Homo sapiens: one gene and its partners. The protein of the gene in region 1 interacts with the protein of each later gene in a pairwise test. Each region holds a gene or a part of one and is shown in the gene's direction. Other genes may lie near its edges.

Region 1 (7,027 bases):
ACACACACACACCCCTTCCCAGACAGGTTAAAGGGAGTCTAAACAAAACAAGATACTGTTTGTGTAACATTTTGAGCTCTTTGGGACAAAGGTGCAACATCAACCATCCATCATTATCCTAACCCAGCACACAGAAATGCTTTGTGAAGTTTAGTTTAGATGATTCAGGATTCCCAGAACCCCTACAGATTTTTCAGAAACTACCTCATGCTTCATTCTCTAAGCCAACTAAAAAAAGGAGCAGAAACAAAACACCCTGCTTCCACACAGGAGGCGTGGAGCAGCTCTGTTTACTCCTCCGACACAAAGCCCTTGTTTATGTGGGACAGATGGTAATACGTTTCTCTTCTCTTCTCTCTCTCTCCCTCCCTCCCTCCCTTCATCTGTTCCTCTCTGTTTCTTTGTCCCCCTCCATTTTTCTTTTCTCCAATCCTTCTCAGTTTCACACCACTTTTCCTGAATTGACTCAAGGGCCAGCAAGAAAGATAGACACACAGAATGCCAAGCCCTAGGGGAACGGCTTTGCATCTACTATTTACTCTACCAGGCTGCATGCACACGGTCGTTTCTTGTTTCACAGTACTCACATTTGAAATGCATTTTTGAAGACAGAGTGATACACCTTTGAAACTCCAGGGGGTTCAGGGCAAACATGAAAAGACCCATAAATATTTATGTGGCAAGTTTCCATGGATTGTCTTCACAAAGTAAAAAGTAACCACAGTCAATATGTGAGAGCGCGCAGACACAGACACACACACATACACACACACACACACACACACACACACACATGTTCCTTCCAGGCCTGGCCACTCCCAAAGAACACATGTAAACCTCTTATCACATGTTTACTGCAGTGGGCATAGTCTGTAAACCAGCCTGGGGGAGGGGAGAGGAGGTGTGAAGGACTAGACACGCAAGAGACTTCTCTCCCTCCATGTATAAAGCTGGTTCCTCTCCTTCTCAGACCCAGGCAAGTCACTTATTCTTTCCCAGCCTCTGTTTCTTCTTCTGTAAAATGAAGGTTTTAGAATGCATAGGTGATCTATAGCATCTTTTCCAGCTCTAAATATCTATGACTCAAGGTTTTTAGAGAATTCCCATAATATGAATCTATCTGACACCCAAAATACCTTGTGGGGGCAGGGACAGGTCTGTTGGAATCGACAAACCAGTGATGAGTGATGTCAAACCAGTGACTGAACAATGACCTTTGTGGTGGCAGAGGAGAGACGTTTGGGGCAAAGGGAAAAGAAAAAGATGGTATTAAGTTCAGTAGGGAAATGAGTCGTCTATAAGCAAAGTCAGAGAAGGGCATCAGAAAGGAAAGAATTGGCATAATAGGTACCAAGCAGGAGTAGGAGGCAATATTTGGCATCTGCCTGGGTGTCTAGAAGAAAAGATGGCAAAAAAGCAAAGCAGTGCAAAAGGAGGTGTGCACAGGTCCTGCCTGGTCGCCTGAAATCCATTCTCAGATGCCAAACATGCTTCAGACAGAGGCATTCTCCAAGAACCAGCACACTGGCACTCTTAGAAGAGGCCTTAATGTGATGCCCTGTTCTACACAAGGATAATAACCATCCCCCATAGCCACCCCCCACCTACAGAAAAGAAAGAGTAAATACCCTGCTTTTAAAAGATGAATCATTATTTGAGCACTAATAGCTACATCTGCAAATAATTAACTCTAGGATTTATTACCAATTAGGACTATAAATCTGTGCTTACTTTGGCTCCTGGAAAGTTGATTTCACTGGGGAGTGTGGGAGGGAGGGGGGACAAAGTCATTTGAGACAAGGAGGGAGAAATCCAAGCTTAAAAAGGCACACTTCAAATTCAAAAGAGAGCAAGATTTCTCAAGCACCACAGCAGCAAAGCAGGCTTGACTTGCGGTTCTAAGCAAACCAGCCCAGCAGAAGCCTGCAGGGTTAGCAAAGTCAAAGAGACTGGTGCTACTCAGAGGAGGATGTTAGGGCCCGGGAAGGAGGTTGCATACTGTATGGACCCCAGTGCCTAGGCCATAGTGTGGGCTGAGTGGGCAGTGGAACACTGTGCCCATCAGGCACAGTTCATTATCTCAGGGACACTCTGACCATTGGAATCACCTGTGGAGTTTTAAAAACATACCTATGCTTGGGTTATACTGCAGACTAATTAAATCAGAATCTCCAGGATGGGGCTAGGGTATCAGAGTGGTTCAAAAAACACCCCCAGGTGACTTTCAAGTGCAGCCAGGGTTGAGAACCACCACTTACCTCATTTCATCCTCAAGCACTCCCATGTTAAGAGGGTTGCTATAGCTCTCATCGTTTTACAGAGAATGCTGAGGAACAGAGAGGCTAAGTAATGGGACCAGGGTTACACAGCTAACAGTGATGAAGGCAGGATTTGAACACAGAGCCCACAGTCTTACTTATCATGTTCTATGGACTCCAAGGTTATGGTTCCCAGACTTCCAGGCCCTGAACCTTCACAGTCTATTCAAGATAGAAAATGGGGACTCAGGCCAGGACTGATGGCTCATGCCTGTAATCCCAACACATTGGGAAGTGGAAGCAGGCGGATCACTTGAGTCCAAGAATTTGAGACCAGCCTGGGCAACATGGTGAAACTCCATCTCTCAAAAATACAAAAATTAGCTGGGCGTGGTGGCACATGCCTGTGGTCCCAACTACTCGAGAGGCCAAGGCAGGAGAATCGCTTGAGCCCATGAGGCAGAGACTGCAGTGAGCCGAGATCATGCCACTGCACTCCAGCCTGGACAACAGAGTGAGACCCTGTCTCAAAAAAAAAAAGAAAAGAAAAAGAAAATGGGTACTCATAAATGACTTTTATGCATGTTTTTTAAATCATAGAAATGAAACATTAGCATATATGAATGCTACATATTAACGAGGGGGGCAAGTTTCTTTCCTTTGATTGGGATGACATCAACACAGAGGTTGCACTGGACATTTCACGCTTATCAGGAGTTCTCACCCATTCATTCAACAAACATTAAGTGCCAATTTTCTGCAGAGTCTACGACCCTGTGCAGATAATCACACAACAGATGTTCTAAGGGACATAATAGTAGCATGCACTAGACACTCTGAGAGCACACAGAAGAAAGCAGGCAGCTTGGAGTGGCCATGATATATCACGCCTTTAGTGAGTGTAAAATGTCAAGGTAAATCACAGGATAATATATGCATGCTGCTAAGAGGTGAAACATGAGATAGAGTCCCTAACTGGAGGCAGAGAATAATCAAATCTTATAAGAACGTTGGGAATAAACTGTTGCTGATCCATAAATAGTTCACCCAGGGTAGAAAATGCAAATTCCTGGCTGGCAGCTATATGAGTGTAATGAGCCCGACGTCAGCATGGGAGGTGGGGACTGAGGTAACCTAGAGACCCTGTATCCTGTCTAAAGAGGCAGCCAGTTCTCAACACCAGCCAAAAATCACCATGTAGAAATGTGGATGCAGTGTTGTCAGACCTTTTGACTTTTCTAGGAAAATCTGTAAATATGGGTTACTTAACGCAAGATCTCCCAATTTTTAAAAGGCATCTAATTCAAGTATTTTCAAAACACCACATAAAGCAAAGAAAATACATCCCCGCCCCCACCGCCCCCCACCCCGCCAGCTTTGATTTCATCACTGAAGGTGATCTCTCTGCTAGTCCCAGGATCCCAAAGCAATTGCTTATTCACCTGTACCTTTCCCCTCGCCCCACAGGTCTGCTCATTTATTTTGGATATGGCATCTGGAACAGCACCCTGGAAATCAGCGCTCGAGAAGAGGCCCTGCACCAAAGCACGTACCAACGCTACGACGTGGATGACCCCTTCTCAGTGGAGGAGGGTTTCTCCTACGCCACAGAGGGCGAGAGCCAGGAGGACTGGGGCGGGCCCACTGAAGACAAAGGCTTCTATTACCAACAGATGTCAGATGCGAAGGCAAACGGCCGGACAAGTAGCAAAGCGAAGAGCAAAAGCAAACACAAACAGAACTCAGAGGCCCTGATTGCAAATGATGAGTTAGATTACTCTCCAGAGTAGGAGAAACACACAAGTGGGTAGAAATGGTGATGACTGATTTTCAGTAACTTAACCTGTGGGCTAGAAGGTGAAAACTTTTTTGGCTCTCATTTCACAAATCCAGCCTTCCCCAAATTCAATCCCTAGTCATAGCCTGTCATTTGCTACTTTTGCTCTTCAGGATAGTTCTGTTGAAGGGCTTAACCTGGGTCCCCTAACTGGTCGCCTTGTTAAATAAAATAAATAAATAAACAAGAGGCTATATGAAATTCCATCTTAGGTGCAACCACCAGAGCTGATGGTACCAAATGTTTCCTAGGCCTTTGCTTTGCTGGTTGAAGCCCAAGCAGGGGCTCTGGGCAGAAGGCAGAATTTCAGTCACCTGAGACATGGGGACAAAGCTCTGTTCTTGGCATGTCAGGCTGAGTGCTGCTCCCCGAGGTCAGGGTGGGTAGATGGGCATTGGCACTTCCTGAGCAAGCATCATTTTATCCTGCAATCTCACCCAAAATTAATTCATGGAAAAGACACATGCTTCTTTTTATTCACCAACATTCTCACAGCTTCCAAACTATAATTTTAGGATCCAGCAAAGTTCAGGGACTCTGGACCATTTTCCCAATGGTTTCAGATTCACCATAAAGCAGTCAGGCAGACCCAGTGATATGGTAAGAAGCACCATCAAAGCTCTATGTAAATGCCCAGAAGAAAATTAAATAACCATATCTTGCGGTAAAAGCCAGAAGGGCATTGGCAGAAATTAACTCTCTGTCATGGCCTCTCTTATATCAGACTGCAGCTCCTGGTGATATGATGAAAGCGGGCAAAGGTGGAGCATGATTTCATGGCACTGATATGCCTTGAAAAAGTAGGTTGTTTGTTTTATAATCAGATAAAAATTTTTACAAGGAGAAGTGAGCCAGCCACTGAGATCACATTGCAAATTCTCTTTCATATTTCTAAAATTATAAATTCTAAAGTTTTTGAGATAGGCAACCACTTGATTGGTGTGTGCTACTCTGAAAACAAAATAGGCTGAAGTATAGCGACTTAGGTAGTTGCATTCCATGAGATCACATTTCACTTCTGAACCTTATTCCTTGGGGCTAGCTCACTTTCAGAGGTGTATTTTTTTTTCCTGTTATTTCCCAGAGTAGTTTCACTGAAGCCCAGAGAAATATCTACCTGGTAAGATGTAAATTTGGGCCATAAAAGGGGCTATTAAAAGAATTTTCTCAGAAATAGAATAGATGAGAGAATTTGCAAAGGAAAAAAACACACATGGGCTACAATATAAATTCTACTCTTGGGTTACAAGAATTCCTGTGGCTGCACTGAGATACGTACAAATGTATGTGAAGGCACAATTTGAATCAAGCTATCATAGAATTAACCAAGCTATTAAAATTAATCAAGCTATTAATAAAATCTCTGTGAGGATTTCCTGAAAGAGGGACAAAAGAAGAAATTCCTTGTCCTTTCTCTCCTGGATGTATCAGTATGCCAAACGTTTTCCAGAACATATTCGCTAGCACTCAAGTCTGTTCTTTCTGAAAGGCTGAGGCTCATGCCATCTTGGCATGCTTTAGGATTATGGCAAGGAGGTAAAAGTCCATTTTTTCATTCAACTAACACTGGTTGAGAATAGACCCAATGCTAAGTGACAGGAATGAATAGAAGCATGGCACTTGCCCTTGGGGGCTACAGTCCATGGATGAGCAGCACTGGAGCCTGGTAAATGCAGATAAAACAACAAACTTGACAAGTCTCCAGGCTGATGCACTGGGTTTTAACATACATATAAAGATGAATTGAAACTAGTTTTTAAAAAATATGCTTTAAATAAATTACATATCGTAATCATAGCCAATGTATACCATTAAACTAAAATAACTGCAATTTTCTAGATATTTTTTATTCTTCTGTAGTCATTGTTTAGAACTCTGGTTTCCTGAGGTCATTTTGTCATTTTAATATCATGCTTGACAATGCTATGTTTTCTCTTCCCTAGAGTTAACCATAAAGATACAGTGCCTACTCTGTGAAATACAGCATTAGGAATTAATTATAAACTAATTATCAGTCATCTTTTGAAAACAAAGTTTTGAATTGGCTATAGGACTCAACAAATCTGCCTGGTGTAAATAGAATCTGTTAAGCTTGATACATATCTAGATAGATGAGGAGGGGTTGTATTCATTAAGCATGAGAATAGAGAAATAGGAGTGCAAAATGGCAAAATCTTAACGTGGGTGAAAGAGCTTCCTTTTACTAGTGAGGTTTAAGTATTAAAGTAACAATAGCCTGGTGGCAGATGAATGCAATTTCTATAGGATGGGAATGGAAAATGTATGCTTTGGTTAACACCATTGCTGTTGACTTCATGCAGATTCTATTAAGCACTCTCATTTCAGGAGCCATTTTTCCCACATAGTATATTAGTATATTTTAAGCTTAGCTCCCTTTATTTTTCTAAAGTTGATAAATCACCTCCCTAGCAACCTTAGTTTTAAAAAAAAAATCACTAAGATAGAAAAAGTATTTTCAGGTACATAGACATGTTTGTCCTCAGGTTTACCTGCTTCTGTGAACAGTCCCAGATTTTACAATGCAGTTTTCAAATACCATCAATCACTACAATGACAATATTACTATTTTCTTAACAGGTTTCTAAACGATGTATGTGTGGGATCACATTAAAAGTAAGATCACCTTATAATTATCTTAGAAACTTTGCCCCTTGAAGGGAGTCCAAGGAAGACCTACATTTTATTGAATTCTGAATAGCAAAAGCTCTCCGAGTGAGATTTCATTGTGTGGATTTGTGGTTTGGAGCCAATTACTTGATTTTCTTCAGATTTTATTCTACTTATTTATTGGTACTCTGCTTCATTTCAAAAGGATTTGAGGCAGCTACTAAAATATATATAATACAAAACAAAAATTAAGTGAGGAACTCAGAGCAAACAAAAATAGAAACAGAAAGGATAAGACAAAACT
Region 2 (7,027 bases), on another chromosome or scaffold:
ACAATGGCGGAGTTGAGTAGGTGTGATCGAGACCATATGGGAATATTTACTATCTGGTTCTTTACAGAAAAGGTTTCCCTACTCCTGACTTAAATTAAATATAGTGACAAAAAGCATAAAGATTTTGGAGGTTTTTTTTGAGATTAAAAAAAATTCATAAGTTATTGGCGAAGTGCCTGCCATATAGTAATGGCTCAATAAACAGATGTTGCTGTTTATATTCCTTCATTAGATTATTAATTCAACAAATAGTTATTGAGTGCATACTCTGCCAGATACTGCTCCAAGAACCACAGAATACAGCAATGAACATAATTGGACAAAATTCCTTTGCTCATTGAATAGACAATAAACAGACAAATAAAAATAAGTAGAGTATATTATTTGGCTGGGAGAAAAAATAAAGGATGAAAGAATAGAGAGTTTGAGGGTAGAGGTTGCAATTTTTAGATACAGTGGCCAGGGAAGACATCACTGGAAAGGTGACATTTGAGTGAAAACCCGAAGGACACAAGGGAGCCCAAGGGGATGCTGTGGGGGTGGTGAGGAGTATTGTTCTGGGCAGGGGAATAATACAAAAGCCTGGAGGCAGAGAGAGCTTAGAGTGTTCGAGGAACACCAAGGAGTTGATGGGCTGGAGTGGCGGGGAACGATGGGGAGAATAACAGGAGATTAAATCAGAAAAGTGCGGGGTAGGGCCTTGAAGAACCATCTAGGGACTCTGGCTTGTACTCTGAGTGGGAGAGGAAGCAAGTTTTGAGCAGAATAGTGGCATGGCCTGACTCACATTTAATCCAGATCCATCCGACTGCTCCAGTGCAAACACCCTGTAGCACAGACTGATTAAAATTTTATAAGTTGATTTGCAACATCAATTACAGCTTAATGGTGTTAAATTGGGGGAATATTGCATATTCTCTCCATGGAAATTAATAAACCATTTGATGGGTACACAGCACCTTCCTTACATTATTTAAGACAATGTCAGAATGATGAAACTGCTTCTAATTTATGGACAAACAATATGATATCTCAGAATCCCACAGGGTAGTTCTAACCATTTAATTTCTGCGGATTCTCACAACTGCTTCAGCTTTTCTAACAGAATCTTTGGACTAACATGGCCTCTTTTTTTGATACAAATATTTTTGTTTGGACAGTGATTGAGACTGACCTGGACAGACCTAGAGAATGCCTCTTTGCTGTAAGATTGTTCCTCAATCTTTCTTTCATTACTACTTCCCTCTACCAAGGAACCTTTGTAGACCTGTTTTTTTTTTCCTAATTTCCACCACAGGAACATTTTTTATTGTGCTAAAATATACATAACATAATATTTGTCATTTTAGCTATTTGCAAGTATACTATTTAATGTCCTTAAATGTATTTACAACATTGTGTAACCATCACCAGTATCTATACCCAAAATTTTCTCATCATCCCCCCACATAAACTCTGTTCCCGTTAAACAATAACTCCCTATTCTCCACTCCCCCGAGTCCCTGGTAACTGATAGATACCATGCTTTCTGTCTCTGTGAAATTGCCTATTCTAGGTACCTCATATAAGTGGAATCATATACAATATGTGACCTGTGTCTGGCTTATTTTGCTTAGCATAATGTTTTCAAGGTCCATCCATGTTGTAGCATGTATCAACATTTTACTCCTCTTTATGGCTGAGTAATATTCCATTGCATGCATATGCCACATTTGATTGTTTGTTCACCTACTGATGTGTTTCTATATACATATATGTACATCTGTGTGTGTGTATATATGTGTGTGTGTATATGTGTGTGTGTGTGTATCTGTGCTTTCTACATAAAAAGTGCAAAATTGTTTTACCACCAACCCCAGAATGAATTTTCGCCTGCAAGAAGAGGGGGGATCTCACCCTCATTGATAACGCAGGTTCTCAGGTATAGATCCCCAGGTTTCCTGCCAAAAATGAGGTACATGTGTAGGTAATGTTTATTATTATTATTATTATTATTATTATTATTATTATTATTTTGAGACCAAGTCTCACTTTGTCACCCAGGCTGGAGTGCAGTGGTGTGATCTCAGCTCACTGCAACCTCTGCCTCCCAGGGTCAAGTGATGCTTGTGCCTCAGCCTCCCGAGTAGCTGGGATTACAGGCGCGCACCACCACGCCCAGCTAATTTTTGTATTTTTAATAGAGATGGGGTTTCGCCATGTTGGCCAGGCTGGTCTTGAACTCCTGACCTCAGGTGACCCACCCTCCTCAGCCTCCGAAAGTGCTGAGATTACAGATGTGAGCCACTGCACCCTGTCAGTAATATTTATATGTAGATAAACCACTTAGAGTGAAGCCAAGGATAAGGAAAATGACCTCAGAACACATAAGTATGAAAAGTCATCTTTATTCCCAATGCAATAGAGTTATCTGTATTTTATTTAGTCTTCACAATTGCCAACAGTTTATAAAGGAATGAACTCAAGAATGTTTGGAAAACAGCTGTAAGCAGTCATGTCAGGACCAAGCCAATGGAGCCGATATTCTAACTAAACTTTTGAAAGCAGTGGCAATTCATGATGTTACTATTCCCACTGAGTCAAAAATATTTCTGGAACACAAAGAGAATGATTAAGTAAGAATGTAAAATAGGAAAAAAAATGAAATCAATGTCACATCTGAAGATCAGAGGAGTGGGAAGCTGGTACCTGCTAGGGTATGCATGGTTGTGTCAGCATATGGCATGAGTGTTGGTGTCTAGTTGGAAGGCCATATGGCAAGGTATCTGGCACAGACTCACCTAGGTCTTATTCTCCTGTGGTTGCCCAATGCCATATTGTCTCATTCTGTAAAGAAGAGATTTAAAAGATTGTTGAACAGTGTTAATAAAGTCAGCCATTTCAAATACATGACCAGATTGTTTAACAGTGTTAATAAAGTCAGCCATTTCAAATACCCTTCAAATATCATCAAAGACAAGTAGAGACTGAGAAACTGCCAGAGTATGAGACTGCGGAGATGTGAAGACTGAAGACCACATGGGGTCCTGGATTGGATCCTGGAACAGAGAAAGGACATTCACAGGAATACTGGGAAATTCTGAATAAAGCCTATAATTTAGTACTGTCATATCAATGTTAATTTTTTAATTTTAGTCAATTGTCCCAGGATTATACAAGATGTTAACATGAGGGGAAGCTGAGTGTGTTGTGCTTCTTCTGTGAGTCTAAAATTATTTCAGAATAAAAAGTAAATGAAAATAAACAGCAACCAAGTTTCCAGTAGCTCCTGAGTATCAGAAGCGAACTTGAGACTGGCAAATGCTGAAGCATGGGGAGAGTGAGGGAGTGTATATTTGCATCATAGCAGCTTTGATGCCTGCCATAAGAGTGACTCCTGTCCTTGTCTCCTTTCCGATTCTTTTGCAGGGTGTGCTGGGTGCATCATGTAACTGGCATGTGGGTGTACCCTTTCCTGGAACACATTGGCCCAGGAGCCAGAATCATCTTCTTTGGGTCTACAACCATCTTAATGAACTTCCTGTACCTGCTGGGAGAAGTTCTGAACAACTATATCTGGGATACACAGAAAAGTAAGTATTGTCTGAGGGAACATAAAACAAGAGAATTACTGCCGGCAACAGTCTATGCAGAGACTGAGGGAAAATTCCACTGTAGCCTCTTCTTTTAGCCTTCACACAGGATCTCCTATAAAGAGCTCCATTTTTAAAACTACAATATGAATTTAAGAGCTGCTGACAGTTACCTGAAAGTTTTACTAGTCACTTGGTCTTGTTAGCTAGTAAAACCTCCAAATCTAAAGAGGAAAGAGGCATGTCTATAAAATTTTATAGGGAAAAATGTAGTGTTAGCAAAAAATATATATTAGGGAAATTTGTCCTCATTAACAACACAATGCTGCCTTAGTTAGCTAAAGGGACCTCAAATTAAATAGATACATTATTAAATGTAACCAATCTCCTTTAAAGTCACCCAGATCTCCACTTTCTATGTGGGTGCAGTCACCTGGGAGAGGTCTTACTACCATTCTGCTAGAGCTCTATCTAAGCAGTGTGTGATGCTCCGGCCACCTTGACTCACCAGTGGCTGTCACGGAAAGTCTGAAAGTGGCAAAGAGCTACAAGCAGTAAAAGATAATATTTCGTGGCTGGAAAAACTCTTTTAACCTGTGATTTGATTTCTCTTTTGTTTCCATTTATGGCAGAGCCTCCATCTTGGCAAGGCACGTAATCTTATCCAAGCTGTGCAAAACCTGTCCAAAGTGTATGTACAATAACATAAAAATTGAAAGGTGGAAAAAGCGCCAGCACAGACATGTAGTGATTGAGTCCTGCATGAAAATACATCCAAAGGCAAGATGGTTTGGAGATTTTAGGAAGCCCTGGCTCTTTCCTCTGACACAATCACAGCATTCTAGACATCCCCAGTAAATGGACTCTGTGACACAGACATTGAGCACCCTGCTTTGTGCCAGACACCCTGCCAGGAGCTCAATGGAATCAGACAAATAACGCACAGTGAGTGCATGGTTACTGTGCATGGTTACTGAATCAGACTTTTGTGTGTGTGGATCCTCTAAGATTGTATGTGTCAGGGTATTAGCCAATGTTAAATGGCGCAGAGGAATTTGAGGGTTTCTTTTCTCATCAGCTTTTGATTTTAATCAATGTTCTATTAGAAAAAGTATCAACATTTTTAATTCTGTTCAGGCCACAGCTTGGGGAACAAGACACTAATCTTTTAATAATGTTCCACCTGTTCAATGGAAATAGTGATCTTTCTCCATTAATTTACAGAAGTATTTAGTTACTTGACAAAAATATTTTGAGAACAAAATATAAACCTTTCTCAGCTTCTTGGAAGAAAAACTGTATTTAAACTTAAACGAATGTGTCCAATATATGTTATTCAGGAAGTACTTAAGTACCTGCTTACACTTGACTTGATTGATTTGACAGTCATTTGGCCACAGTTCTACTACTTCTATGAGAGGATGACCTGAAAACCACTAGAGAGAAATATCCACTCTACATTAATAGAATACTGCTTTTTAGCAGCTTTGAATGAGGAGTTAAAAATGAATAATGAAATTAAGGTTTTTTGAATGATTTGTTTAATTTATGCCATTCTTTTAAGTAACATAAGATTGACTAACTTTTTTTAAAAATTCATTTTAGATATGAAAATTAAGTTTATGTACCTAGGACCATCTAGTTAGTTCCACAAAGACAGATGTTTTGTGCCAAGTAAGTATCATCCTCATTTACAAGAGGGGTCACAAACTGCTGGCCTCCCCCAACTTCTACCTATCAAGTTCTGTTAGGCCTACATCGTGGAATTTTTGTTTTTGAATCAGTATTTTAAAATTGGGTGATTTTGGCTGGGCGCAGTGGCTCATGCCTGTAATCCCGGCACTTTGGGAGACTGAGGCAGGTGGATCACGAGGTCAAGAGATGGAGACCATCCTGGCCAACATGGTGAAATCCCATCTCTACTAAAAATACAAAAATTAGCCAGGCATGGTGGCGTGTGCCTGTAGTCCCAGGTACTCGGGAGGCTGAGGCAGGAGAACTGCTTGAACCCAGGAGGCAGAGGTTGCAGTGAGCTGAGATCATGCCACTGCACCCCAGCCTGGCAACAGAACAAGACTCCATCTCAAAAAAAAAAAAAAAAAAAATAGGAGATTTCACATGAAGGCCAGATTTTCAGCTTCTTAGGAAATATTTTAAGATCTGGAACACAGAGCCCACTGTTCTATTCTGGTGACAATGGTTTAGAATAGAGTATCAGTTATCCCTTGGCTGGGCACGGTGGCTTACACCTGTAATCTCAGAACTTTGGGAGGCTAAGGTGGGCAGATCACTTGAGCCCAGGAGTTCAAGACCAGTCTGGCCAACATTGCAAAACTCCATCTCTACTAAACATACAAAAATGAGCCGGGCGTACATGCCTGTAATCTCAGCTACTTGGGAGGCTAAGGCACGAGAATCGCTTCAACCTGGAGGCAGAGGTTGCAGTGAGCCAAGATCGTGCCACCACACTCCATCCTGAGCCACAGAGTGAAACTCTCAGAAAAAAAAAAAAAAAACAGAAAGAAAAGAAAAAAGAATTGAGTATCAGTTATCCACTTTAGATGACTAACTTTCCCTCGTTCTCACCTGGCCACTTTACTCAGTCACATTAGCTGCCTGATTCTGTTAGCTGTTGAGTCAAAAACTACTCACTAAAAGCAGTGTGTTAGGATGAATTGAGGACATGGGAGTACAGTACTACAATCCTGAGTATTTCACATCAGTTACTATACAATCCCCCAAGAAGAAGGAAGATTGCATTGGAGCCACCCTCCTTTTTCCATAATGGTTTTTAATAGCTCAACTCTGTCTACTTGGGTAACTTATGTTAGCTACAACTTCAAGATAAAAATCACATTATTGCAGAATCTTACTGCTGAAAGAGAGATTGGAAATCATCGAAACCGACCCTTTCCTTTCACCAAAAGTAACTGAGGCCCCAAAATCTTAAGTGACCCTCCAGAACAGGTGATGGCAGAGCCAGTGCCTTCTAACTGATGTTCAGTCCAGTCTCCAAATTTCCCCTTTGTATAAGAATACCAGTTGTATTTGATTAGGGCCCACCCTGATGACCTCATTTGTAAATACTTATCTCCAAGTAAAGTCACATTCTGACTTTAAAACCACATCCTGGGGGTTAGGATTTCAGCATATGAATTTGGAAGTGGGGGACAGAGTTCAGCTCATAATACTTCACTCTCTCCCCACCAGAATACATGTCCTTCACCCAATGAAAATATTCCATCCCAACAACCCCAAACGTCTTTCAGACATCAACTCTCAAGTCCAAAATCTCATCTTAAATATCATAAAATTGGGTATGCGTGACACTCAGGGTATGAGTCATCCTGAAGCAAAATTGTTCTCTAGCTGTGTGTGAACCTGGGAAACCAGACAAAAAGTTATCTGCTTCCAAAACAGAATGGTGGGACAGGCATAGAATATACATTCCCATT
Region 3 (7,027 bases), on another chromosome or scaffold:
CTCATCCTCAGCAGTAGCCTTATTTCCCATTCATTGGCCAGTCTAGGCCTGCGTGCTCAAGGTCACATGGCTAGTTGGGTCCAGTCGGGGTTTGAGGATGGCAGGGTGACACCCAACCACTGCCTCAAGCAATGAGTGCCTCACAGGGGTGGGTGCCCAGGCCAACCCATGCCAGGCACCCCTCCCTCTCCACCGCAGGAGCACTGGGTGGAAAAGGAGTTGGGGTCAGAGGCCAAGAGTGTGGTTACAAGGTTTATGGCTCTTGGGATCATTTTTCAGTGACCCTGGAATGGGCTCCGCTGTTCTTTCTCCCCAAGGCTGGCTTTGGGGGTCGTAGCACCGGATGAGAGGCCCTCTGGCTGCCCGCCTGGGGCTGACCATCCCCAGTTGCTGGGGTCTCTTTGTTCTGTCCTGGTCCCCACCATCGTGGAGAGCAGGTGACGGACTGCCCAATGAAGGGGCCTCGTCCCTCGGGGGAGAAAGAGCTTGGAGGTGGCTGGCTGTCTCTAGTGCAACAGCCTCTCCTGGAACCTGGCTTGGGGAGCGGGGTTTGGGGATTAGAGACCTATAACACCTTGACCCTGCTCTTGAACACCTCCCAGTCCAGTGGGACAGAGAAGTAAACAGTCCCTGGCAACGGGTGTGGTGAGTGATGAAGGCAGCGCCGCTGAGGCCAGGGCTGTGAGTGTCCAGGGCTGGGAGGCTTCTTGGGTCCATCTGAAGCTGCTGGGGTGTAGGGCAGATGCAAGGGCTGGTTTCCAGGTTGGACAAACATCGTTCTGCTTCACAGTAGGGGGTGGAGGGGAATGAGAGCAGGGAGACCCTTTGGGGGCTGTGGCAGGGGCAGGGGGAGAGGAGGATGTGGGGGTGGAGACAAAGAGGTTGATCCTGGATCTGTTTCCAGACAAGCTGGTGGCCAGCTTCTCCAGCCAGTCCTGGAGGGCTGTGGACAGTACCCTCAGACCTCCTCTTCTTGTGCCCATGGTGGCACAGCAAGGCCAGTGAAAAGGCAGGTGCAGCCTCCCAGCTTCCTGGGCCAAGCCAGGCTTTGGCTCTGGTGGGTGGAAGGAGCACTGGGTTAGGAGTCAGCTGCCAGGCTGCATCCCCGCCCTGCCGCCTATAAACCGCATGACCTTGGCCAATGAGCTTAACTTCTGTGCCCCTCGGTTATAATATTTCCCTCCTGGGACTGCTATCAGGATTATGAATGGGTCATTTCTCTGAAAGTCCTGCCACAGAGGAGATTTCCAAAAAGTAGTGGCTGTTCTCGTTCTTGTGAATTTCTTCCTGGCAAATGGTGACTTTGAATATGGGAGTTCCCAGACCCACCCTCTTTGGGCAGATATGTCTGAATGCATCTGACTTTTGTTTCTCTGTTTCCTGGATAAGGTGGTCGTGAAAACTAAGACCGAGTATGAACCTGACCGCAAGAAAGGGAAAGCACGTCCTCCCCAAATTGCTGAGTTCACCGTCAGCATCACGGAGGGTGTCACCGAGAGGTTTAAGGTGAGTGGTCCTGTGCTGGGTGAGATGCTGCTTTTGCCCCCAGAAGGGGTCTGCTGAGCTGCATAGATGCCCTGCAGGGAGGGCCAGGGTTTGACGCCGTTTGTCTGGGCTCATCCCAGCTGTGCACACCCAGTAGCTTGTGACTGCCTGCCAAGATGTTGTCCTTGTGCTTTTTGTACATTTCTTTTTTCTTTTCCTCTTCCAAAATGATCACATATTACTTATTTTTATAACAGGGGAAACCCACCCACAAACTGTCTTTTAGGCAAAGATTATAAACATATGAAAAATCACTTACCAAACATTACAATATTTACTTAACAGTTCCAGGAAGGAAGCAGGCAATAACAAAAAGATAACGCACAGCACTGATCACATGCCAGAAAGGGGTCCCAGCCCTTTACCTAGTGAGCTCATCTGAGCAACCCTCCTGGCACACCAGTACTATCGGTATAACCCATTTTGCAGATGGAAAGGTTGAGGCACAGAGTGGTCACAGCTCTACACAGCAGAGCCAGGATCTGATCTGCAGGGGGTCTGGCTTTGGGCCTGTGTGTATCCTCCATCCTTCCCCCCATCCCAATGGGATGAAGGGGTGCTGCTGAGAGCGGGAGGGTTCCAGCCTGTCTCGGTGGGAGGAGCCTTCTTGCCAGCCTGGCTGCCTTCAGAGGCCACGTTGGTTGAAGAACAAGTTGGGATATTGATCAGGAAACTCATTCTTTGGGAAACATGAGAGAGAGAGAGTAAAGCGGTAGCCTCATCCAGATTCAAGGAGGTGAATTGAGAGACATCAGTGGGCCCCAGGCCTTGCAGAGTGGCCCTGTCTGGCTCTCTGGTCACCCTCCACTTGGCAGTGTGAGCAGTTTGCTTGTGCTGGGGGCACAGGGACTCCCACCCCCACCCGCTGCAGTTTCCAGAGCCCCTGTGGGTATGGCATCATATTGGATCTCTGTGACAACCTTGTGGATCACAGAAGGTGGGACTGGGAGCCATCCCTGGTTAACAGATGAAGCCAAAACCACAGAGTGACTGGGGAAGCCAGGGCGTAATCTGACTTTCAGTCCCTCCTTCTTCCCGTTGCCACACACTGCCTGTCAGGGCCTGCCTGGTCCAGCGGGTCCCATGAGTGTTGCTGTGGGGCAATTACTTGTGTCAGCTCAGCAAATCCTCCCAGCAGCCCTCTGCCTGCTCCCTACTAATAGTAGGTACTATTTGTATTACCAGTGTTACAGATGGGGAAGTCGAGGCACAGAGCAGTCTGTGTCTGTCCCTGCTGGTATGTAAGGATGTCGTGTGTGCCGAGAGGCTCTTTTGGTGGCTCCTGGCTCGGCCCATCGTACGTTTTTGAGGTTCTTGGCCAGGACCAAGACATACTGATCCGAGGTCAATACCTGTCTTCTGCGCTGGCCAGTGGGATTAGCGCGTGCCTTATCTGCTGCCACTCACCTGTCCTGCCCCATTTGCACCCTGGGTTTGGCTGCTGTCCCTGGTTGAGGCAGGAGTGGCCTTGATTTCAAGGTCATGGTGTCCTCTGTCCTGATGGCTAAATGCTGTGTGATGTCTGAGTGTGTCTGGGTTTCTCAGGCCCCACTTGCCCTTTGCTTTCCCAGCCCCGGCGTTTTAGGTCCCCACAGAGCAGGGCGCAGTGCGGCACTTGAACAGCTATTCCTTCATCTGTTGAGTGTCTATGATGTGCCAGCCTCTGTCCCCGACCTCTGGTGTTCTTCATTTGCACTTTTCCCACATGACCACCTGAAGCAGGTCCCCAGGTCTCTTGCCTAAGGAATGGGTGATGCATATTTGCCACCAGGGCCCTTGGCAGCCTTGGCTGGGACTCTGTGGTTACCTGGCCCCTGTTGCCCAGAACCTGAAGGCTCAGAAGACCATGGGTGATTATGCTCATCCCAATAGACTGGCTGCTGGCAGCAGAAGCCCTGCCTCATCTCCCTGCCTCTACCTCCTGTGGCTGTCTGAGAAGGCGATGTATGCAGTAGGTGCTCAGTACATGACTATACTGGACTAAGTCTGCTGGGTGTGTTCCTCTGCTTAGTTTTCTTTTCCTCCTTTATGATTCACAACTGCCCTGAAGGGGTGGCATCGGCCCCTTTACACGTAAGGCTGTTGAGTCCCAGGTGGTCCCAGGGTGGCTGGGGTGCTCCCTCTGTGACTCTCTAGCTTCAAAGCCAAGGCCTTCCCAACATACCTTGCACCACATCCCTCCCCACTCCCATGGGACGCCTGCTGCTTCCCAGACCCCATCCCTTCCATCTCCTCCCAGGGCAGGTGCAGATCACACCTCTGCCAGGAAGCCTCCTGGGTCACTCTCATTTGCAACAGACCTCACCGCCCTGTTTCCAGTGCCTTTTGTAGCCAGGCTGCAATGGCATCTAACAGTGACGGAGTGATCCATGAGCTAGACTCTGCTTCACACTCCTAATGCTCATATTGTCTCATTTAATCTTCATAAACACCTCAGGAGGTAGGCGCCCTTATAGCTCCATTTTACATAGAGGGGAAACTGAGGCAGAGAGCCTTGGCAGCCTGCTCTTGGCTGTGGCACCAGAGGTCCTTGGTTTCTTGGAGAAGTGGGTTTGTGTGGGAGCACTCACCCCAGGCGCCATCGCTGTTGAGCCATTCCACTTCTTCAAATCCTTTTCCTTTGTTGATTCAAAACCCTTGCTCTGCTGCCTTGAGCCACACAGAATGTGCGGCGCCCTCCTTCCCCATCCCCAAGGCCTTCAGAGACATGGCAGGCACAGGTACCCCGGAAGCCTCCCCAGTGTACAGCTTCTTTTTCTCTTGTGTCTTTCTGAGTCCTGGTTTCCACGCTCCCTTCCCCCAGGTGCTCTCTTTTGAGGGTCTGGGTTGGGCTGTCTTCTCTTTGGGTGTGAAACCTGTGACTGGGTGTCCTGGCAAGGTCCATTGGTGTGGCCCTTCCAAGCATAGGCCCCCTCGACCTGAACTGGTGACCCGAGGAGGGGAACAAGGCCATGGAGACCCCCTGAGCCAAGAATGTCAGCCAAGAATGAATGCTTAGGGACTCTTTGTGCAGACGGAACTTACTCATCAGCCGCTCTATGCCAGCCATGGTAAGAGCTCCTTGATATCATCTCTCTGGCGCTTCTTGCACACACAGTAACAGCTTGATAAGTAAATGGATGACTAATTGTGCTGCTGGCCTCCCATGAATGGGGTACTTGGCGAGATTTCCTGGGTCTGCCCGTGGGTCCTTGCTTGTTGAGTAAGTTCAGCTGGCAGCTCATTGGATTGAAGCCTCTCTCGGGGCCATGCTTACGCGTAAGCCTCTAACAGGTGATGCCTGTCAGCTCTCACCAAGTCAGACAGGTGACCTGCTCAAGACCACACAGTCAGTGAGTGGCAGAGGCAGAGTAGGAGCTGGGCAGCCGGCTCTAGAAGCCTGTTGCTGTGGCATACTTCAGCCCACTAGCTTGCCCAGGAAGCCTGCAGGCTGGACTTTCGCAGCTGAACAACTTGCATTCTAAGGGCATCTCTTCTCTGTGCCTGCTCCGAGCCCCTTCTCAACTGGGAAGGAGATTTACCTAGCTCCCTGCCCACTTGCTGTGGGGTGGATGTGAGAGGCAGCCTCCAAAGTGCTGCTTCCCCAGGTGTTTCTGGAGCCACCTGAGTCAGCATCACCTGAAGTTTGATTTTAACTTGGACCCTGAACCGCAGGGAGATGCGTTTTGACAAATGCTTTCCAGGTGATCCTAATGTGTCCTGAGTTTTCGAGCCTTTCCGATGGGGGTGCATTCCAGCACAGAAGCTGGGAAGGATGAGGAGGGCTGGTGCTTTTTGGGAATGCTAAGGGTGCCCACCTTTCTGGAATGTTCTCCCAGCTTTTTATTACCCAGTTAGATTTCTGGCATCCCTGAACGCGTGCACACAATGAGGCGTGTGTGAAGCTGCAGCTGGTTGAGGGCTGGGCGGGTCTCTCTTTCTGAAACGGGAGCATATGGGGAGCAGGCTATGCTGGAGACACGGGCATGATGGAGGGTCCGCAATAGAGATTCACCCTCCCTGGCTTGTGTACCCCCCTGCCAGGGCCCAGTCGAAGCTGTGGTTGGGACAGAGCATCTTCCTCGTCCCACTAGTGACTGGACAGCTTCTGTGCAGCTCCCTGGCCCAGCCATCATCTTAGCTCTTTCATCTCCATGCATGAATTGCAGGAATGGAATCTCGCCTTTCCGATCTTGAAGTGACAGGTAAATCGTTTGTCCCCTCCTCTCTCCAATTTGTGTAGCTCAGAAGCACCTCATCTTTATAGGCGTTTGGATGGCATCCTTGAAACGGAGTGTCTTTTTGCATGCAGCTTTCTGATTGTCACTTGGGGATTAATCTCTTGGCTGTGAGGTTACTAGGCTGGTTGCTAGGTAACTGCTGACTGGGAGAAGGTTCTGAGAGACTCCGCCACACGGGATGGCAGGAGGACTCCCCCAGCGGCGGCCAGCTGCTTGGGCTTCCAAAGAGGTTCTTGTCAAGGAAAGCAGTCGCTTAATTAACTGGAGGCATATTTACAGTGAGAATAAACACTGGCTGAGATGTTTCTCAACCAAACCTAAACATTTTTGAAATTGCACTTCCCCACTGATGCCTGCAGAGTGGCGGGTCGGGGCTGCTGGGGCCGCTGCTTGCAGTTCTCCTTCCGGTCTGGAGACTGTCATTAGGGGCCGTCATCAGACAGGTGACAGGAAGGCTCCCTCAGGGCCCGCTCCAGCCCTTCGTGCTTCGTGATTCCGGTGATGACCGGTTGCTGACGCTGGAGAGGTCTCCACACCCTGTTTGCCTGTGATGTGAGGTCAGGTTTGGGTGGTCCAGCCTTGACCCTCACCGGGTACCATGTCACCCTGGGGCCTTGAGAGATCTGAAGGTCGGCTTTGCACGGGAACACCTTTCACCGCCAGCACAGGGCTGGGGAGTGACTTGGCAGGAGAGCCCTCGTTAGTCTGCGTGGTCCCCCTGGTTGGCAGTCCAGACTCTGGTGGGGACGTCCCTCTGCATCCTGTCGCAGAGGACTCTGTGGGTGGTTTGTGTCTTTTCTTCACATCCCTAATGACCTTGAGCTTCCTGCGTGCCCATCTGTTTCCACATTCTCCAGTAAGCCCCTGGTGTGTTCCCTAATGACCTTGAGCTTCCTGCGTGCGCATCTGTTTCCACATTCTCCAGTAAGCCCCTGGTGTGTTTCAAGATGCATTTCTTAAATATTTATGAAGAGTGATGCCGTTTCCTTGGCATTCAGCAGTGGGGGTGGGGGTTCTTCCCGTGGGGGTGGTATTGGAGACCCTGAAGGTGTGTGTGGACGCCCCCTCACCTTTAGCTATGCGAGCATCTTGTAGGATCCTGGGGCTGTGGTTGCAGAGCCCACCTTCCCCAGGCTAGCTGTAGTGTGGGGGCTTCGGCTGAATCAGATACCACGTGGGTTCAGTCATCTGTGTGTGTGTGTGTGTGTGTATGTATTCACTTTTGTGTGGGTTACCTAAAATATTTAGTGCTGTAAACGCTT
Region 4 (7,027 bases), on another chromosome or scaffold:
CCACTGTCCTGGGCCCAAACTGTCCACTTTCCATTGGCAAGAACTAAAACCCCACCTGACTGCAAGGGATCAGGGAAATGCGTTCACCAGTCAGGAGGCCACATAGCCAGCTACTGTTTGCTTACTATGGAGGAAGAGACCAGTGTGTTTTCACAGACAGCCTGTAGTCTCACTACAGATGGCACCTCACCTCACAGTGTGGTTGTGAGGATTAAATGAGACATTGCGTTAAGTGCCCAGCACGTGCCTGGCACCGGATTGGTAATCAATACATGGTAGCTCCAGCCTTTGTATTTCTTTTGCATCCTTCCACCATGGCTAAGTCAAACTCGTTCTTGGGCATTCGTTCACTCATCTATAACATGAAGGACTTGAATTTCACCAGGGGTTACAAACTCCTTGACTATGGCCCAAATACAGATCACAGATGTCTTCTGTTTGGCTGACAGACTTTTAAGTTTTTATTTTATTTTATTTTATTTTTAGACAGGGTCTTGCTCTGTTGCCCAGGCTGTAGTGCAGCGGCATGATCTCAGCTCACTGCAGCCTCCAGCCTCCCGGGTTCAAGCAATTCTCGTGCCTTAGCCTCCCGAGAAGCTGAGACTACAGGCGTGCACCACCATGCCCAGCTAAGTTTTGTATTTTTAGTAGAGACGGGGTTTCACCATGTTGGCCAGCTGGTCTTGAACTCCTGACCTCAAGTGATCCGCCCGCCTCGGCCTCCCAAAGTGCTGGGATTACAGGCGTGAGCCACCACACTCGGCCGGATTTTTACGTTTTTAAACTTGGTGGGGCATGTATTCTCCAAGTGCCTTATACTGGGGCAGATTCCATTGTTTTACCCTCTCCATACCACGGTAGATGTTTATATTTGCTATCTTGGTCCCTAAGTTTACTTTTTGCTTGGATATTCGAAGATTTGACATCTGTAACCGTGTGCCTTGGAAAAAGCCTGACATCTGGCTGGCTGTCTCCCCACCTTGCTTCTCAGTTGCCCCCAGCGGGTCTGAGTATTGAATGTGCACTGATGCTCAGTAGCAGTAGATATTGTCCTCTTATTAAAAGTTGTGTGCTCAGAGCCAATGAAGTGGTGATTTAATCAAAAATGTTTGTTAATCTGACGAGTGCAATAAAACCCCCACAAGTGAGTGATCTCAGCACCTGCAAACAGTCTCCACTTGTAATGAAGCAATTACCAAGCAGGCAGCACTCACCCTTAGGGCTGGCTTGGGCCAGCTGTATAAGCAGCCACCTCTTAGGACAACCAGGGCACCCTCTAGCCTCCCCCTCAAAGTGGTTCCTTTTGAGGTCTTTTTATCCAATTCATTTGCCACCATATGAGATCTCAGAGTTGGAAAAAACTGTGAGTTTTAGCTTCTGAGATTTCATTCTTAATAAGAAAAGAAAATTATAGTTCAAATGAGAAATCACCCACCCAGTACTGATTTTAATGTTGTGTGGGAGGAAGGAAAGGTTGAATTTCAGTCTAAACTGATAGGAGAATTTTGACTGATGTAAAACCTGTTTGTGTTTTCGGATCTCTGATGGTAATGAGCTGTTCCTTTGTCATTGCACTTTTCTTTTGTAGCTGGACTGTTCAAACTGGTGTCTTTAGATGTTTCAGTGACCAGTTGGTCTTGAGTTAACAGATGTGTGGTGTCTTAGCCGGTATCCTAAAGTGGATAACTTGGTTGGATCTGACCCCTAGTACAGAAAGTTTATCAGTTTGGAAAGCTTTTGGCTACAAGTTATAGAAAACTGACCTCAATGATTTAAGCAAATGGGAGTAGACTTTTCCCCTTATAGAAATTTGTAGGGGCCAGGTGCAGTGGCTCACGCCTGTAATCCCAGTATTTTGGGAGGCTGAGGCAGGTGCATCATTTGAGGTCAGGAGTTCGAGACCAGCCTGACCAACATGGTGAAACACCATCTCTACTAAAAATACAAAAATTAGCCAGGAGTGGTGGTACACGCCTGTAATCCCAGCTACTCGGGAGGCTGAGGCAGGAGAATTGCTTGAACCCAGGAGGTGGAGGTTGCAGTGAGCCAAGATCGTGCCACTGCACTCCAGTCTGGGCAACAGAGACCCCGTCTCAAAAAAAAAAAAAAAATTTGTAGGTAGGTGGCTACTGGCATTGGTTCAAAAGCTTAGCTATGTCAGAGTTGGTATTTCTGCATTCTCTTCACTGTTTCCTCATGGTCACAATATAGCTGCCACAGCTCCAGTCTAATATTCAACTTTAACTCAGGAAGGAGGAGGAAGGAACAACACTGTCCCTTTTATCAACAAAGCATAAGCTTCCCCAGGAGTCTCCTAGCTGACTTCTGGAACGTCTCATTGGCCAGAACTGGGTCATGAGCAAGCCTAGCTGCAGTGAGGTTGGGAGAGCATCTGCTGAGCTTTTCCACCTTCTGGAGTAGAGGTGGGCAAAGGAGCAGGGGTGGGGAGTCGGTGTTGTGTTGGCCAGTTGACAGTATCTGCTGTAAGGAATAAATGCTAATGGGAGTCATTGAAAATTCACTGGAATCCTTACCAGAAAAAGAGGGCAGGATCGGCTGGGTGCGGTGGCTCACGCCTGTAATCCCAACACTTTGGGAGGCCCAGGCGGGCGGATCACCTGAGGTCACGAGTTCGAGACCAGCCTGACCAACGTGGAGAAACCCCATCTACTAAAAATACAAAATTAGCCAGGCATGGGGGTACATGCCTGTAATCCCAGCTACTCGGGAGGCTGAGGCAGGAGAATCGCTTGAACCTGGGAGGTGGAGGTTGCGGTGAGCCGAGATGGTGCCATCGCACTCTAGCCTGGGCAACAAGAGGGAAACTTCGTCTCAAAAAAAAAAAAAAAAAAAAAAAAAAGGCAGGATCACTGACCATGAGAAGTGGTAGGCTGAGGGGAGAGAATGGCCTAGGCCAGGAAGAGCACCGGAAGGCTTGACGCTTGTGGTTATTTGTATGGTGCCAGCCACTGCAGTAGCCTCCGTGGGGCAGGGCAGGCAGAAGCACCAAGTGTGGCTGAAGACGGTCTCCGCTCTGGAGCAGGCTGTGCACAGGGCTCAGGGGAACCTCCCACTTTCCTGAGACAAGGGCTAGGAGCAGGTGAGTGGACTGTCAATAAATATTTGCTGAACTGGCTCGATTGGCAGGAGGAGGCATTGAACCTTCCACCCTGACGTCTGGGCCCAGTTGAGTGGAGGTCACAGTAGAGCAGGCGGTTAGACGCCACCTTGCTGGGACCCTGAACCCCAAGCCAGGGGCTGGGAGAAAGGCTCGCAGCACGCAGAGGACTGTTCAGGGGCCGCTGACCATTAAATGAGCCTCACCTGCTGCCAGGCGAGAGCGACAGGTCGCCATTGGGCAGGTGATTTCTCGCGGCAGCCTACATCTGGCTCTGCGCCACTTGACGGGGGTCAGGAGACTAAAACCTCATTACCTAGCGCGGCTGGATGGCGGCGTGTGTGGAGTGGCTGTCTGCCAGCATCTTAATTAATGAATTCATAAGGCTCGGGGTGGATGCCAGTTCTTGAAAAGTGCTTTGAGCCTTTCAGCGATGAACAAGCTTTTGCTAGTTTATCAAAAAATAGATATCGGGGGGAAAGAAGACAAAACAAACCCCACACCACCTTCCGGCCCAGGGACAGCTGGCATCTTCGGGCGCGGACTGGCTCGGGCGCTAACTTGCAAGGCTGGCTCGGCCTCCGTCTCCTCGCGGGAAGGCGTCGGGACTCGCGTGGGCTGCAGCGGTTCCCTCGCCTTTCTGACCTGGCATGGGGGTGTGTCCAGGCGAGCGACAAGCCCCTAGGCTCTCCCTGCTCTTCCTGAAAATTGTTCATTGATTAAAAACTGGGAAGGTCTGCCGTCTTCAGCTGCACAACCTGCGAGAGAAATCCTTACAGGGCCTGTTGATGTGGGGAGCCATGGGCGGAGGTTTTTCTGCCCCCACAGAGCTCTGTGAGCCGCCTCCACAGAAAAACATCCCTTAAACGATGTGGGGATAATGGGCCCCTTGGGGTTTGAGGCTTGTCACCTGGAAAATTGAGGCCTAAGAACCCCGTGTGACTTGCTGTGGAGCCTGAAGGCTCCAAATGGAAAGCCCCTGCACTCTTGCCAGAGACCATCTGGGCAGGCACTTGGCTGCTTTACCCATTATAATAAATGTCCTGGGGTCTCCTGACGTGTGAAAATGAGTGAATTTTCAAAAATCCAGTTCCCAGGCTGCTGGGGCTGGAGATGAAACAGCTGACACCACTCTCCAGGCTGTGAATTAGCAAGTGAAAGGGAAGGCTTCGGTACTGCTGGGGAAAGAAGGGTTTATCAGGCCCAAGTAGCCCACCTTTTTCCGTCTCCAAACTGGATCTGTTTTGTGTGAATTTTGGAGGATGCTTTGACAGTCGAGGTGATCTGGGGCAAAATGCCTGGGATGTTTGTGAAGCTCATTGAGTTGGCCCAGTGTAAGGGCAGACGCTGGGCTCCTGTCTCCTCTGTCTCAACAAACAAATTTCAATGAGGGCTTTCCCTCACAGAGAGTATCTGTTATGTAGACAGAAACTGAGCAGAGCCTTGTACAAGATTATTCCGAGTAGAGAATCTGTTGAAGCCAGATCAGCAAGCTTAGATGGGCTTCAGCTGGGATGTGGAATGACTGTTCTGCAGAACTCTTGTCATGAATGTTTTCATGAGGGATTTTGGAGAAAGAGCTTGAAGTGGTGGAAAGAGCATAAGCCCTGAAGCAGAAAAACCCAGATTCAGGCTTCAATTCTGCCCCTTCCCAGTTACACGACCTTGGGCAAGGTGCTGAAAACCTCTGCAAGGGAGCTTGCACCTCTGTAAGATGGAGATGGGCCCTTCCTTGCAGGGCGGTTGCAGACACAGGAAGCTGCCCACAACCTGCCCAGCTCCAGGGGTAAGGTGTGGAGGTTGTGCCCAGGAGCTAGGAGTCCCTCAGAGCTGATGAGCGCTGCCTTCTCCATGTGGCATGGTGGTTAAGGGCACAGACGTGGCTGCCCAGCTCCCGGACTTAATGCCTGTGTGACCCTGGACAGTTACCTATGTCTGAGTCCCCTCATCTGTCAAATGTGGATGCTGATAATACTGCCCACCTCACAGGGTTCTTGCGAGCATTATGTGAGTTAATCGGTGTAAAGCATGTAGGTCAGTGCCTGGCACACAGCACAGACTACAGAAGTGTTGCTGCTGCTGTCACTGTTGTGGTTCCATTTTGCTGGGACTTTTGGTTTCCAGAGGCTGCTTACACTCATGCTGTCATGCAGACACTGGAGACTCTGTGACTTGGCTCGGCTCAGCTACCCTGGCACCACGCTCTTTATTGGAAGGTCTGAGTGCCCAGTAAGGACCTGTCCAGCCAGGTGCAGTGTATGCCCCATTACCACTGCCTGACCCTGTAGCAAACCTGTCACTCGCTGGCCAGAAGCTCCCAAGAGTAAAGCCGGAGAGACAGCAAACAGCTTCCTAAATCAGAAAGCAGAGTGGCCTGTGTAGCCCAGCACCAGGCCCCGGGGGTGCCTTCTGCCCTTTCCCAGAAACAGGTCTGGCCCTAGACAGTGGTTCATTAGGGAGTGGGCAGAGAGCCACCTCCCCGGCTGTCTAGATGCTCTGTGGGAACACCATTCAGTAGGAGAATAGAGTGAACGGTAGCCTGTGGCTCGAACTGTCTCGTGCTTGTTGGCAGAAAAGCTGCATATGAGGCCCCCAACAGCAGCTAGCCGTGGAGCTGGCACCCCATCAGCTGACCTGGCCAGGATGCTGGGGCAGTTATCTGTGCATGAGCTGGCACGAAATTCCCTGCCCCCAGTGAGGCCTCCGTGGGGCTCTGATTCTGAGAGGGCCTACACTCCTGAAAAGATGCCTCGCGGGGATTTCACACGAATTTTACAGTTTCTCTTAACACAGTGGTTTTATGGCATATAGGACCCCAGGGAGACTTCCTTAAAGCTCCCAGAATAAGGTGATATTCCCCAAGTCAGGCTGCAGAGGGGAGTTTGCTTATCTGCCTGGGGGCTGCTGAACTCCAGGCCCGGGTGCTTGGAGCTGCATCTGTCTGATGGGCTCTCAGGGAGGCTGCAGGAAGAGTCCCTGCCCCTGCCGCTGGGCATGAAGAAGCCCTTTCTGCTCTTGGCACCTGCCAGCAGGATTGACGGCCCTACTTGGCTAGGGCCTTGTCCCCAGCACCCCTCAGGCCTACAACACAGCCTCTGCAGCCTTGACTGCTGGGCTGACTTTAGATCTTCTCATTCTTCTGCACAGAACACCCCCTCTGTGGAGGGCCTTTGGTCTCATGGGTCTCCTCGCTGAGCTCACTCCTTCACCCAGCAGGCCTCAATTCCCTGCCCCAGGCTCTGATACTGAGAAGCAGCAGTTCTCAGTAATTTAGGCAGCATCACTACGGGGCTTTTCTGTTAAAAGAACGGACTTGTTGGGTCCCACTCCCTAAGGCCTCCCCTGGGGCCTTTCCCACCTGTCTACCTGAGGGATGCTCCTTCTCCATTCCCTGCCTCATATGCCTCTTTTTCCTTCCTCCTCCCCTCTTCCTTTGTGCTCTGTGTCTCCCCTGCCTAGGCAGACTCCCCAGCCATCCCCCCAGGCAGTTTTTAGCCACTGCTGGTCTCTGGGTAAAGAACAGACTTTCCCCAGGACACCCTTCACACTCTCCAACCTGTTCCTTGGGCCCCTGGACCGCTCACACAGGGCTTCACACAGCGCCTCCCCAGGGCTCAGGCTGGGCCAGATGCCAGGAAGCAGTGTGCTGGCTGACAGTGGGTTCATACCATCGCCTCTCTTACTTCCTGGGGTCCCCAAAGCCCCTGCAGATCGCAGCCCTGTGCCCCCTGCTGACTCATCTCAGTGACTGGGACACAGTGCTTTTTCCCCATGTAAAAATTGACCTTGGTTTTCTGAGTGTAAATATAATGCACGGGTGGTTCTTAATGTTATTGTACAGCAGGGGGCACCTGCTCTCTGCCCCCACACTGTGCCGTCTAGGTCTCTGCCTTGGCTGTCTCTACTTTG

The links.
Region 2: the proteins of SLC7A14 (region 1) and AIG1 interact in binary tests that used the Homo sapiens proteins (3 or more experiments, as listed by UniProt).
Region 3: the proteins of SLC7A14 (region 1) and NSG1 interact in binary tests that used the Homo sapiens proteins (3 or more experiments, as listed by UniProt).
Region 4: the proteins of SLC7A14 (region 1) and CCDC167 interact in binary tests that used the Homo sapiens proteins (3 or more experiments, as listed by UniProt).

Annotation. Positions count from the first base shown.
Region 1 is NC_000003.12:170,464,076-170,471,102, reverse strand, and holds part of SLC7A14 (solute carrier family 7 member 14), read left to right. Parts: intron 1-3,700; exon of another isoform or gene 3,701-3,725; coding exon 3,726-4,048; 3' UTR 4,049-7,027. UniProt on the Homo sapiens protein: Imports 4-aminobutanoate (GABA) into lysosomes. May act as a GABA sensor that regulates mTORC2-dependent INS signaling and gluconeogenesis. The transport mechanism and substrate selectivity remain to be elucidated.
Region 2 is NC_000006.12:143,329,874-143,336,900, forward strand, and holds part of AIG1 (androgen-induced gene 1 protein), read left to right. Parts: intron 1-3,408; coding exon 3,409-3,572; intron 3,573-4,204; coding exon of another isoform or gene 4,205-4,222; exon of another isoform or gene 4,223-4,517; intron 4,518-5,177; coding exon of another isoform or gene 5,178-5,218; exon of another isoform or gene 5,219-5,246; intron 5,247-7,027. UniProt on the Homo sapiens protein: Hydrolyzes bioactive fatty-acid esters of hydroxy-fatty acids (FAHFAs), but not other major classes of lipids. Show a preference for FAHFAs with branching distal from the carboxylate head group of the lipids.
Region 3 is NC_000004.12:4,390,086-4,397,112, forward strand, and holds part of NSG1 (neuronal vesicle trafficking-associated protein 1), read left to right. Parts: intron 1-1,389; coding exon 1,390-1,506; intron 1,507-7,027.
Region 4 is NC_000006.12:37,489,890-37,496,916, reverse strand, and holds part of CCDC167 (coiled-coil domain-containing protein 167), read left to right. Parts: intron 1-7,027.